Regions from separate parts of the Homo sapiens genome. Here region 2 is linked to region 1. The links come from fine-mapping of genetic effects on gene expression. A gene starts in region 1. The other region holds a variant in brackets. All regions are shown on one strand. Distances are from middle to middle. Region 1 holds the start of PIGO (phosphatidylinositol glycan anchor biosynthesis class O). Region 2 overlaps PHF24 (PHD finger protein 24).

Evidence for each region.
Region 2: its variant is fine-mapped to the expression of PIGO in lung (TOPMed, PIP 0.98).

What each region holds. Positions count from the first base shown.
Region 1 is chr9:35,094,009-35,099,331 of GRCh38, reverse strand. It overlaps PIGO (phosphatidylinositol glycan anchor biosynthesis class O), which reads left to right and starts at 2,741. Exons shown (of 11, transcript NM_032634.4): 1 at 2,741-3,177; 2 at 3,766-4,277; 3 at 4,973-5,116; 4 at 5,308-5,323. The coding sequence starts at 3,767. PIGO-AS1 (PIGO antisense RNA 1) reads right to left here and starts at 3,028. Exons shown (of 2, transcript NR_186491.1): 1 at 2,912-3,028; 2 at 1,188-1,572. RefSeq lists an enhancer at 2,735-3,074.
Region 2 is chr9:34,974,664-34,980,033 of GRCh38, reverse strand. PHF24 (PHD finger protein 24) reads right to left here. Exons shown (of 8, transcript NM_015297.3): 4 at 3,804-3,882; 5 at 3,294-3,499; 6 at 2,791-2,951; 7 at 2,393-2,488; 8 at 1-2,019. The coding sequence ends at 1,923. Among named protein-coding and RNA genes, the nearest start is that of DNAJB5-DT, 12 kb to the left of the region's middle. The variant G/A (reference allele first, on the strand shown) is at 2,272.

The DNA of each region.
Region 1 (5,323 bases):
GCAGATCATGAGGTCAGGAGATTGAGACCATCCTGGCCAATATGGTGAAACCCCGTCTACTAAAAATACAAAAACTAGCTGGGCGTGGTAGCATGTGCGGGTAGTCCCAGTTGCTTGGGAGGCTGAGGCAGGAGAATTGCATGAACCTGGGAGGTGGAGGCTGCAGTGAGCCGTGATCACGCCATTGCACTCCAGCCTGGCAACAGTGAGACACTCTGTTAAAAAAAAAAAAAAAAGTGATAAATGCTGTGGTAGAGGAAAGTTCTGGCTGAGGGATCTTGGTGGGAAGAGCATATCAGCTTATGAGTAGCAGCGTTGCTGATTGCCACTGAACTCAGGCTGGAAAAGTTAGCAAGTTTTCACCAAGTCAGGTCCTGGACTAGAATAAACAAAGGCTCACTGCTTGAGAGAAGTTGGCTGAAGGGTATAGTGTTAAGGGGGATGTGACTACATGGCAAGGGCCAAGTCACAAGGAATGAGATTCTTGTTGAAGGGGTTGGACATTATCCCTAGGGTAATAGGGTTTTTTTGTTTGTTTGTTTGAGACAGCGTCTCCCTCTGTTGTCCAGGCTGGAGTGCAATGGCATGATCTCGGCTCACTGCAACCTCCGCCTCCCGGGTTCAAGCAATTCTCCTGCCTCAGCCTCCTTAGTAGCTGGGATTACAGGCATGCGCCACCATACCTGGCTAATTTTTTTGTTTTTTGTAGAGACAGGGTTTCACCATGTTGGTCAGGCTGATCTCGAACTCCAGACCTCGTGATCTGCCCGCCTGAGCCTCCCAAAGTGCTGGGATTACAGGCGTGAGCCACTGTGCCCGGCCTATGAAGGGTTTTTTTCCCTTCCCATGAAGAATTTTAAGATAAAACATCACATTGGCCAGGCACAGTGACTCATACCTGTGATCCCAGCACTTTGGGAGGCTGAGGTGGGAGGATCACTTGAGCCCAGGAGTTGACCAGCCTGGGCAACATGGTAAGACCCTATCTCTACAAAAAAGAAAAAAATAACAGTAATCACATTAATGTTTTAGTTAGAGCTGTCTTGCTGCAATGTGGAGAAGGGATAGTAGGGAGACACAGGAGGCTGGGAGGACAGTGAGAAGGCTGCCTCAGTGATCCTGGAGAAGGGATGAGGTCTGAACTGAGATAAGGGGCTATGGGGATGAAGGTGGAAGAATAACTCAACTTTTTTTAAAAATTAACATATTCCTTTATTCGTTTGGTCAGTATGTGAACCTCAAATATATGCTAGGTGCTGAGGATATCATGAAGAAAACAGAATTCCCTGACCTCAATGAGCTCACATTCTACTCGGAGGGGATAAACCATAAATACGTGTAGAATTTCAGATGCTGATGAGTTGTGCTATGGAAGAAATTAAGGAAGTGAGGGGAAATTTTTCCAGGGGGTGTGGTGGTGGGAGGTGCTGAACTAGTAAAGTAGGGGATTGCAGGAAGCCTTGCTGATGTTACAGTTGAGCTTCAATATGAAGGTGATGGAGATCCATTTCGGCATCGGGAACTGAAGCTGACAGAGGAGATGGCAAATGCAAAGGTCCTGAGGCAGAACTGCTGTGGATGGAACAGAGTTAGGGAAGCAAAGAAGTGGCAGCTAGATGAATCAGAAGGGGAAGAGGCAGATAGTGTGCAGGGCCATGTAGAGCCAATGCAAGAACTTTTACTCTGAGATGAGAAACCAGTGGACGGGTTTTGTTTCTTTTTGAGACAGAGTCTTGCTCTGTTGCCTAGGCTGGAGTGCAGTAGCACGATCTCAGCTCACTGTAGCCTCTGCCTCCTGGCTTCAAGCAATTGTCCAGTCTCAGCCTCCTCAGTAGCTGGGACTACAGGTACACATCGCCACGCCTGGCTAAATTTTGTAATTTTTAGTAGAGTTGGGGTTTCAGCATGTTGGCCAGGCTGGTCTCCAATTCCTGACTTCAACTGATTCTCCAGCCTCAGCCTCCCAAAGTGCTGGGCTTACAGGTGTGAGTCATCGTGCCTGGCATTTTTTTTTTTTTTTTTGAGAGGGAGTCTTGCTCTGTTGCCCAGGCTGGAGTGCAGTGGTGCAATCTCGGCTCACTGCAACCTCTGCCTCCTGGGTTCGAGTGATTCTCCTGCCTCAGCCTCCCAGGTATCTGGGATCACAGGCGCCCGCCACCACTCCCGGGTAACTTTTGTATTTTCAGTAGAGACGGCGTTTCGTCATATTGGCCGGGCTGGTCTTGAACTCCTGACCTTAGGTGATCCACCTGCCTTGACCTCCCAAAGTGCTGGGATTACAGGTGTGAACCACTGGGCCCAGCCTCCCCTCCTCCACTCCGAAGGATTATTTGCTTAATTATTCAGTCGTAAGATTTAGTTACAGGCTTTGAAAGGAGGAGTAATGAAATCTCAGTTGGACTCAGCTAAGCAAAAAAGGGAAAATAAGTATTATCTCCATTTTACAGATGAGGTAATGCCTAATGATGACAATATGTGCGGCCAAGCTAGGATTCAAGTCAAGTTTGACTCCAGCAGCCGTGCTCTTAGTCGTAACCATGAATGGACAGTGGTTCCCTGAACTCTTCCTCCAGCTTGGTCCCCTGTCCCCAATTTTCAATTACTAAATATCCCATCAAACTGGGGCCAGCCCCACGCTCCTGGCCAAACTTCCACCGAGGTGCCGGCAGATGGCGATGGAGCCACCGACGGGCCACTCTGTCTGGCGCACGCATCTCTGTGCTGCCAGGTCGCAGGCGCCGCCGCCGCCGCACTTCCGGGTGCCATTGCAGGTGAGCCAGGGTCTCCCGAGAACCTCACCCCCCGGTATTCCCCTCACCCTGAAGTAAGGGAGTCTCCCTCTTCCCCTCAGCTCCTAACCAAGGTGCTCAGTACCGCGGCTAGGGTGCCCAGCGGGAGGCTGGGTAGTTACCGGAGGAGGCAGAGCCGGTCGCACGCCTGGGTCCCAGCGGAGGCCCAGTCGACTCTCGACCCGGGCCCCAGCCTCCTTGCGTGGCGAAGGTCGTGCCTCAGGTCTCCTGGCGAACCTGGCCGCCCGGAAGCGGAGAGTGACTCCTCCCCTTCGTCCCCTCGGTGCCCGCCAGGCGGCGCCGTCGGCTGGGCCCGGATTCCCCTGCGGCTTCGATCCCTTTCCACTGGGTATTGAGATTGGCGAGGGGAGAGGCGCAGAAACGGCGTGTAAGAGAGCCTGACTACCAATTGGAATAAGTTTCCCTCCTGACTGTTCACATGTACAGGCAGCATTAGCATTTCCTGCCTGTACATGTGAACGTTCCTATGCTCTACCCCTCGAAGATCCTGATTCAGTAGATCTGGGGTGGGACCTCATGAAACGGCGTCTCCCTCTGTTGTCCAGACTCTAGTGCAGTGGTTCAATCTCGGCTCACTGCAACCTCCGCCTCCCCGATTCAAGCGATTCTCCTGCGTCAGCCTCCCCAGTAGCTGAGACTACAGGTGCCCGCCACCCATTTTTGTATTTTTAGTAGGGACGGGGTTTCGCCATTTTGGCCAGGCTGGTCTCGAACTCCTCACCTCAGGTGATCCGCCCGCCTCGGCCTCCCAAAGTGCTGGGATTACAGGCGTGAGCCACCATGCCCAGCCTGGAAATAGGAGGAGAGTAATATTGCGAGGGGTTGGCTGTGAAATGGTTTATCTCCAGGAAGGTTTCCGGGAGGAAGTGATTCTAGCTGGGCTTGTATTCAGGGACCAGAATATCCACTGGTTCTTTGCCCCACAGTAATGAATTTACTTCCCCACCCCTATCAGGATGCAGAAAGCCTCAGTGTTGCTCTTCCTGGCCTGGGTCTGCTTCCTCTTCTACGCTGGCATTGCCCTCTTCACCAGTGGCTTCCTGCTCACCCGTTTGGAGCTCACCAACCATAGCAGCTGCCAAGAGCCCCCAGGCCCTGGGTCCCTGCCATGGGGGAGCCAAGGGAAACCTGGGGCCTGCTGGATGGCTTCCCGATTTTCGCGGGTTGTGTTGGTGCTGATAGATGCTCTGCGATTTGACTTCGCCCAGCCCCAGCATTCACACGTGCCTAGAGAGCCTCCTGTCTCCCTACCCTTCCTGGGCAAACTAAGCTCCTTGCAGAGGATCCTGGAGATTCAGCCCCACCATGCCCGGCTCTACCGATCTCAGGTTGACCCTCCTACCACCACCATGCAGCGCCTCAAGGCCCTCACCACTGGCTCACTGCCTACCTTTATTGATGCTGGTAGTAACTTCGCCAGCCACGCCATAGTGGAAGACAATCTCATTAAGCAGCTCACCAGTGCAGGTCAGTGTGGGCCACTTTGAAGGCCAGAAGTACCTTGGCAAATTTCTTCAAAATTTGAAGTCAGGGAGTCAGACCTTTGGGTGCCCAGATGCACACTTGATTATGGTGTAGGGGGACAGAGGAGAAGAAAGAGGCCAGGGCCCTGCTGGTAGGGAGCTCAGTTTGGGGGACAGAGGAGAAGAAAGAGGCCAGGGCCCTGCTGGTAGGGAGCTCAGTTTGGGAGACAGAGGAGAAGGGATCTGGGCTTTGTTCCTATGAAGCTTCTAATCTGAATGGAGTGTAAGTTTTATTCTTGGAGACCTCTCAGTAAAAGGGAGAAGGGAAGAAGAGAAGATGTGGATCTTGGCTTGCAAGTGTGGAGAAGAAAGCAGAGAAATACAGGCCCTGTTCATTCACTGACTGGGAAGAAGCAGGATACACCCAGGAAAAACAACTCAGTAGAGATACCCAGAGACAGAACTAGGAGAGCATTTTGTAGGAAGGATAAGTGTGAGGTCTGGGTGGAGTACGGTTATCAGGGAAAGCTTCCTGGTGGAAAATGTTAGGCCCTGAAGGATAAGGATTGCTGTATGGAATTGCTGTACTTTAGGTTGCATGGTTGGGACTTCTGATGGGTCTTTAAAGGGCCTCTTTTCCTCTTTTCTCCTAACCCTGACGTTTGCTCAGGCTCTGACTTCTCTTTCATGTCCCTGCAGGAAGGCGTGTAGTCTTCATGGGAGATGATACCTGGAAAGACCTTTTCCCTGGTGCTTTCTCCAAAGCTTTCTTCTTCCCATCCTTCAATGTCAGAGACCTAGACACAGTGGACAATGGCATCCTGGAACACCTCTACCCCACCAGTGAGCATGGGGCCAGAGCACTTAGTTCTAAGACTGGGAGCTGGGGAGAACTGCTTTAGTCCACAAATTCTGAGCCACCTATGGGTGTAACAGCCTGGGCTTGTATCCCTGGACATAGAGGAGTGTCAAAGCCTGGCTGGGGTTGAGGAGTGGGTCTTAGTCTTCTGTGCTCAGTGTTCTCCCCTTCACAGTGGACAGTGGTGAATG
Region 2 (5,370 bases), 120 kb after region 1:
TAGGTAAGAGCCCCTGTGCTTAATGTGCTTTCATCTCAGTGCAAAACCCCAGGCCTGGCTGCTTCAGATGCAGTTCTTAGGCCCAGGAGTCCTGCGCTTTCTTGTTTTGACTAGACTGAATAATGGCCCCTCCTATGGATCAATCCTGGGGGACGGCTGAAGAGCATTTCTAAAAGCTGTGGGCCATACACCTGAGCCCAGATTTGTCTCCTGTCTGCTTCATTTCAGTCCCAAATAATCCAACCCCAGCAGCTCACCACCCTGCTTCCAGCTAAGGTGGTTCCTACAGGAGGAGACTACACAGGGCTCTCAAGAAGCCCCTGGCCGCAGCTCCTTGCTTTCCTCGAAACATTCAGCACCGAGCGGTGTGTGTTCTTCTGTACGCACCCGATTTAGCACAAGGGCCTCGAGCAATGAAGACGTGTTTGCTTCTGCATGACTGCACTCCACTCCCTTTTGAATAACTCTTGGTAGTCAGATCTCGCTATGCCTAAGTCATTAAGTTGGAAACAGAAGCCTAGAACATGGACCCCACGGCCGGCCAAGATGAGCCATAACACACGGACTGAAGAATTTGAATTTGATGAGTACTTAGGAAGGAGGGCTGGGGCTTGGAGGCCAGGCTTGGTGCTCTTGTGGCAGCCTCTGATTGCCCCAAAAGGCCTTCCATGCCAGGCCCAAGCCCTAGCCTGCTGGGGAAGGACATGTGATGAGCAGTGAGGAGAAGCAGCCACTCAAGCCGAGTCTCAGTGATAGGGAGAAGCGGAAAACTTCTTCTGTAAGGCTTTCCCAGGACCTTCTCTGCAGAGCCTCTTCTTAAGCCCCAGCCTCTTATCCTGTTTGTCAGGATGGCTGAAAGAGTCCCTGCTCAGGGCTCTGCAGATCTTTCTTGGGCTGTGGAAGGTGTCTACAGTTGAGTTGAGCTGGAATGATGAGGAAGCAGAGCCCCGTTCTCTCCTCTTCCTCCAGAGTGTGCTCTCGTCAGTCTCTGTGGTCGGTGACTTGGGTGAAGCATCTAACACAGAGGGCTGTGGCTCCTGCCAGTGTGTTTGCTCCATTCAGGCCCCCTTGGCCCTAGGCCATGAGCTACCATCTGAAAAATGGGGCCAAGAAGGCTCACCTTGATTTTTGACTACCCTGCTAAAGACTTTTGGACTCAGGTGACCTGACTGAGAGGTTCCTAGAATCCCGAGTCCCTGGGAAGGGCTGCCTCCCCCTCTTCCAGTCAGGATTCTCCAGGCTAGTTGCCTTTTCTGTCACCAGGAATTGGAATTTAAATAAATAAAGGGCTGAATTTCAGTGGTGATGTTTAACTCTTTTCCCAACTCAGTACAGCCGAGGTACATAATGCACACCTACTAGTAACAGCAGCTGACTGCAGAAGGGATTTTTGGTGGAGAAAGCGGGGCCCATTAGGATCTCCAGGAGCTCTAGGCAGGCATGCGAGTCTGACATGCCCCCTTCCTAAGAATCACTTGGCCAGAGACTTATCTATTGGAAATTAGAACTGGCCTGCCTATAGAAGGGGTGAGTAGAGACCCCCTCCTCTATACCAGGGGCTTCACAAAGGGACTTTGGTCCTTTCTCAACCAAAAAGAACCAGGCTTCTGAAGGCATGGACAGCTGGGCAGCATGTGCACATGTATATAAGTGTGGTGGCAGGTCCCGTCTATGATGTGGGGCAGGGGCGGTCCAGGAGAGGATGCTGCCACAGCTCCCAGGGCTTCTCCTTGTGGCAATGCATTCACTGCCTCTATTGTGAGGGGAATGGTGATTTCAGTGCCTTAAAGCTTAGTGACAAGTTAAGACGCTGGCAGTGTCCCAACCCCATGAGTCTCTGTGCCAGAGGTTGGTGGGGGAAGGGAGAAAGGAAAGGAGGGAGAGGATGTCACTGTCCTCAAACCGAGCTTCTCTGCTCCATGCTATCCTGGGGGCTTCAGGTGAATGGCTGCGCTGTTGGGGCGAGCAGCCAGGATGTAGAGGACATTCTCTTGCAGGAAGGTAGGCCAGTCCACAAATCTGGAGTGGAAGCAAAGAACAGAGTCGTGAGGCTGGTTTGAAGACACGTGAGCCCTGATCCCAGGGGCAGCATGGCTTGAGGAGGCTGGTTTGAAGACGCGTGAGCCCTGATCCCAGGGGCAGCATGGCTTGAGCTACACAAAACTCAGGGAAGCTTGGCTCATGCCTGACCTGGCTATGGCTGGCTGTGCTACCAGGCCAACAGACCAGCTGGCTGGTCCTATAGACTTGGGTCAAATGTGCACTCTTGGA[G/A]CCTGGTTTCTTGGGTGGGCGCTTGCTGTTTTGGAGTGGGAGTGGGTAATGCCCTCTCTTACTTGTGTGTTTTGTGGGGGTTCAGAGGGTACAAATGGCCAGGTGAGGAGGTCCTACTCACCTGGACTCCTGCTCTGTGGGCAGCAGGGTCTTGTCCTGACTCTTGCTGCTGCTGCTGGCTGGGCTGCTATCTGCGATGGGACCCACATGGCTGATGCTGCTGGGCATGAGGACACGTGGTTAGGAGTGGGATAGTGAAATGCCTGCCCCCTCCCAAACTCTGGTAAGCCCAAGGCTCTGGACATGCTCATCCAGGCTCTTCTGACATGTGGCAACACCGAGTTGAAGGCAGAGGCTGTCCTATGCCCTGGCCCGTAGGCATCACCATCCTCTACCTAATGCACAGGAGGCTCCTCTCTCGGCTGTTGGCAGGGGGAGCAGGGAGGTATGGAAGGGCCACTGGCATGGAAAAGGGAGGAGGAGAGGCTGAGTGGGGACCAGGACTGGTAAGGAGCAGACCTGACACTGCAGGAAGGAGCCTCTGGGAACCGTTTGCAAAACCAAGAGTGCTGGGCCCGGCGGCACTCTGCCTCACTGACGGTGCTCCCACTGCCCCGAGCCAGGAAGGCGGCTCGGGCTCGCTCCCGCTCCTTCACTGTCAGAAGCCTCAACAGAGAGTTCTGGGGAAGAAGAGACAAGATCTTAGAGGTGAAGATATCTTGTAAACTGCCAAGCCATAGAGAATCCTATCTCCATTACCACCTTTGCAACCTCCCTTAGAAGCTGCCCAGAGCCCTTCTGGAGGCATCAGCACTTCCAGTGCGGCCCAGGGCAGATCAGTCTTCCTCACGCAGTTTCCTCAGCCTGGGCACCAGATCATCTGTCACTGGATGGAACCTGAGCCCATTCCTGATACTTGTCCCTGCTTGAGCAGGACCCAGTGCTCCCCCAATCTGCCCAGCGTGCCTCCCAGGCCCTTGTCACCCAGTATCCCAGGAACATTTGCCCCAACTGGCCCTCACCTGGGGACGCAACTGCTGCAGAAGCAGGAGGGACTCATGGGACAAGAAGTCAGGCCACTCTATGTGGCCTCGATGTTCAGGGTCCAGGGCAGCAAACTGGCGGGCCGCCTGCTCTTCTTGCTCCTCACTCAGGGCCCTGTCACGGTCCCCCCGCTTGGCTGCTTGGTGGCGGTAACGCAGAAAGTCCTCCAGTGTCAGGGAGCAATCTGTGGGAGGCACCCCGTGCTAGCCATGCCCATCCTTCCTCAGCCTCAGGGCACCTCCATCACCTCCAGGGCACCCTCGGGGCCCCCAAACCCACAGCTCTTGCTAAGTCTCTGCCTCCCATGGCCAGGGTCACCCAGGCTGTGACAGGGATAGGTGACTCTGCTGGCCAACAACTCAGGAACAAGGACTCATTTACCCTCTACCCACTAAATATGGAACACTCCTTTCATGGTTCATTCTAGAAAGCCTGAAGGAGAAATCTGCCCGGCCCCTCTCCATCCATGCAGCACCACCCAACCTTACCAGGGATGACTTTACACCGCTGAAAGGTCTCCGTGAGGCTATACATTTCCTCCTCAGTAAGCAGCAAGTTGATGTTGTCCTGAAAATAAGGAAGAGCTGAGTCGGTGGCCATACAGGCCAGTAAGAAAGGCCAGGGTCAAGGGGGCTAGAAATAGAATTTCAACTGGAAAGCAGTTCCAAGATCATCTAATCCCAGCCTCCTATTCACAATCAATGAGATTGAGGCCCCAGAGAGGAGAAAGGACTTGGCCAGAGTTGTCTTTACTCTGGGGCAGAATCTTCCCCAAGAACCCAGATATCCTGACTCCAGCACTGAGTCCCTTTACTAAAACAGTGGTTTTCTCCTCTGAGCTAACCTAGGGATTTCTTGGAAGTGCCTTAGGAAGCTGCTGCAGGGAATAAGGGGGCTAGTGAGTAGGCAGGTTGTGAATCCCTATCTCCATCAAGCAGAGCGGCTCCATCTCCATCCCTTTTATCTACTTGGCTTCTGTGTTAGGCTGTGCTAAAAATGTATTTTAGTTAAAAAAAAAAAAAGTTTAATCCTAGCTCTGCTCCAAGTGGGTTGTATCACTTTAAATAACCCCAGAATGGTTTTAAAAGATGCCATTATTACAAGGCTCCTAAAGCCAAATGAGTTTTTTTGTAGTGCCACAGAAGTTTTAATTCCAAAGGAGCACCAATATCTTATTGTGTTGACGTTACCATACAGTCTTTAAACTATCAAAGATCCTTTCTAGTACAAGGTCATTTTCTTCCTCTGAGATACCCGCAAAGTACAAGAGCAGATATTTCATGAGTATTCATACGTGGATTTCATAAAGAACTCAAACCATTCTTTTTCTTCCATAACACTTTTTAAAAACTAATATATAATAGTTGTATTTTTCTTTCAAACCATACTTTCAATAAACACCTACTGAGCACCTAGTAAACACTGGGCGCCACAGTGGTGTGTAACACTGTGAGATGTTCAGTGTGGCTGAGGTTTGGAGTACATGTGAGTGTGTGTGTGAGGGAAGGAGGGGGCCTACTATGAAGTACCTCCAATACCCTTTATCGAGCCCCTCAAATTAGGCCTTTATTCTGAGGGCAAAAGGGAGCCACCAAAGGGTTTTCAAGTGGGGAGTGCCGTGGTCAGATCTCTGGCTGCTGTGTGGAAGATGGATTAGAGCGGCAGAGTCTGGAGGTGTGGAGAGCAGTTGGGGGCTGCCGCAACAGTCCAGGCAAGAAATGATGAGCAGCTAAACTGAGACATGAGAATGAAGAAGGGAAGAGAGATATTAGAGGCAGCATCATCAGGACCTGATGACTCACTGGATGTGAGGCATGAGGGAGAGATTGAACTGGAATTGGTAACTGGGGCATGGTATTACTATTCACAGAGATAAGGAGTGGAGGAAGAGCAGGTTTGGGGGCAAAGATGAGTTCATTTTGGGGCATGATGAGTGTGAAGTACTTGTGAGATATCAAGGTGGATAAGTGCAAGAGACAGGAAATTTAGGTCTGGACACACAGAAATAGGAGTCATTAGTGTTTAGATGGTGGCTGTAGATGAAGTCACCAAAGA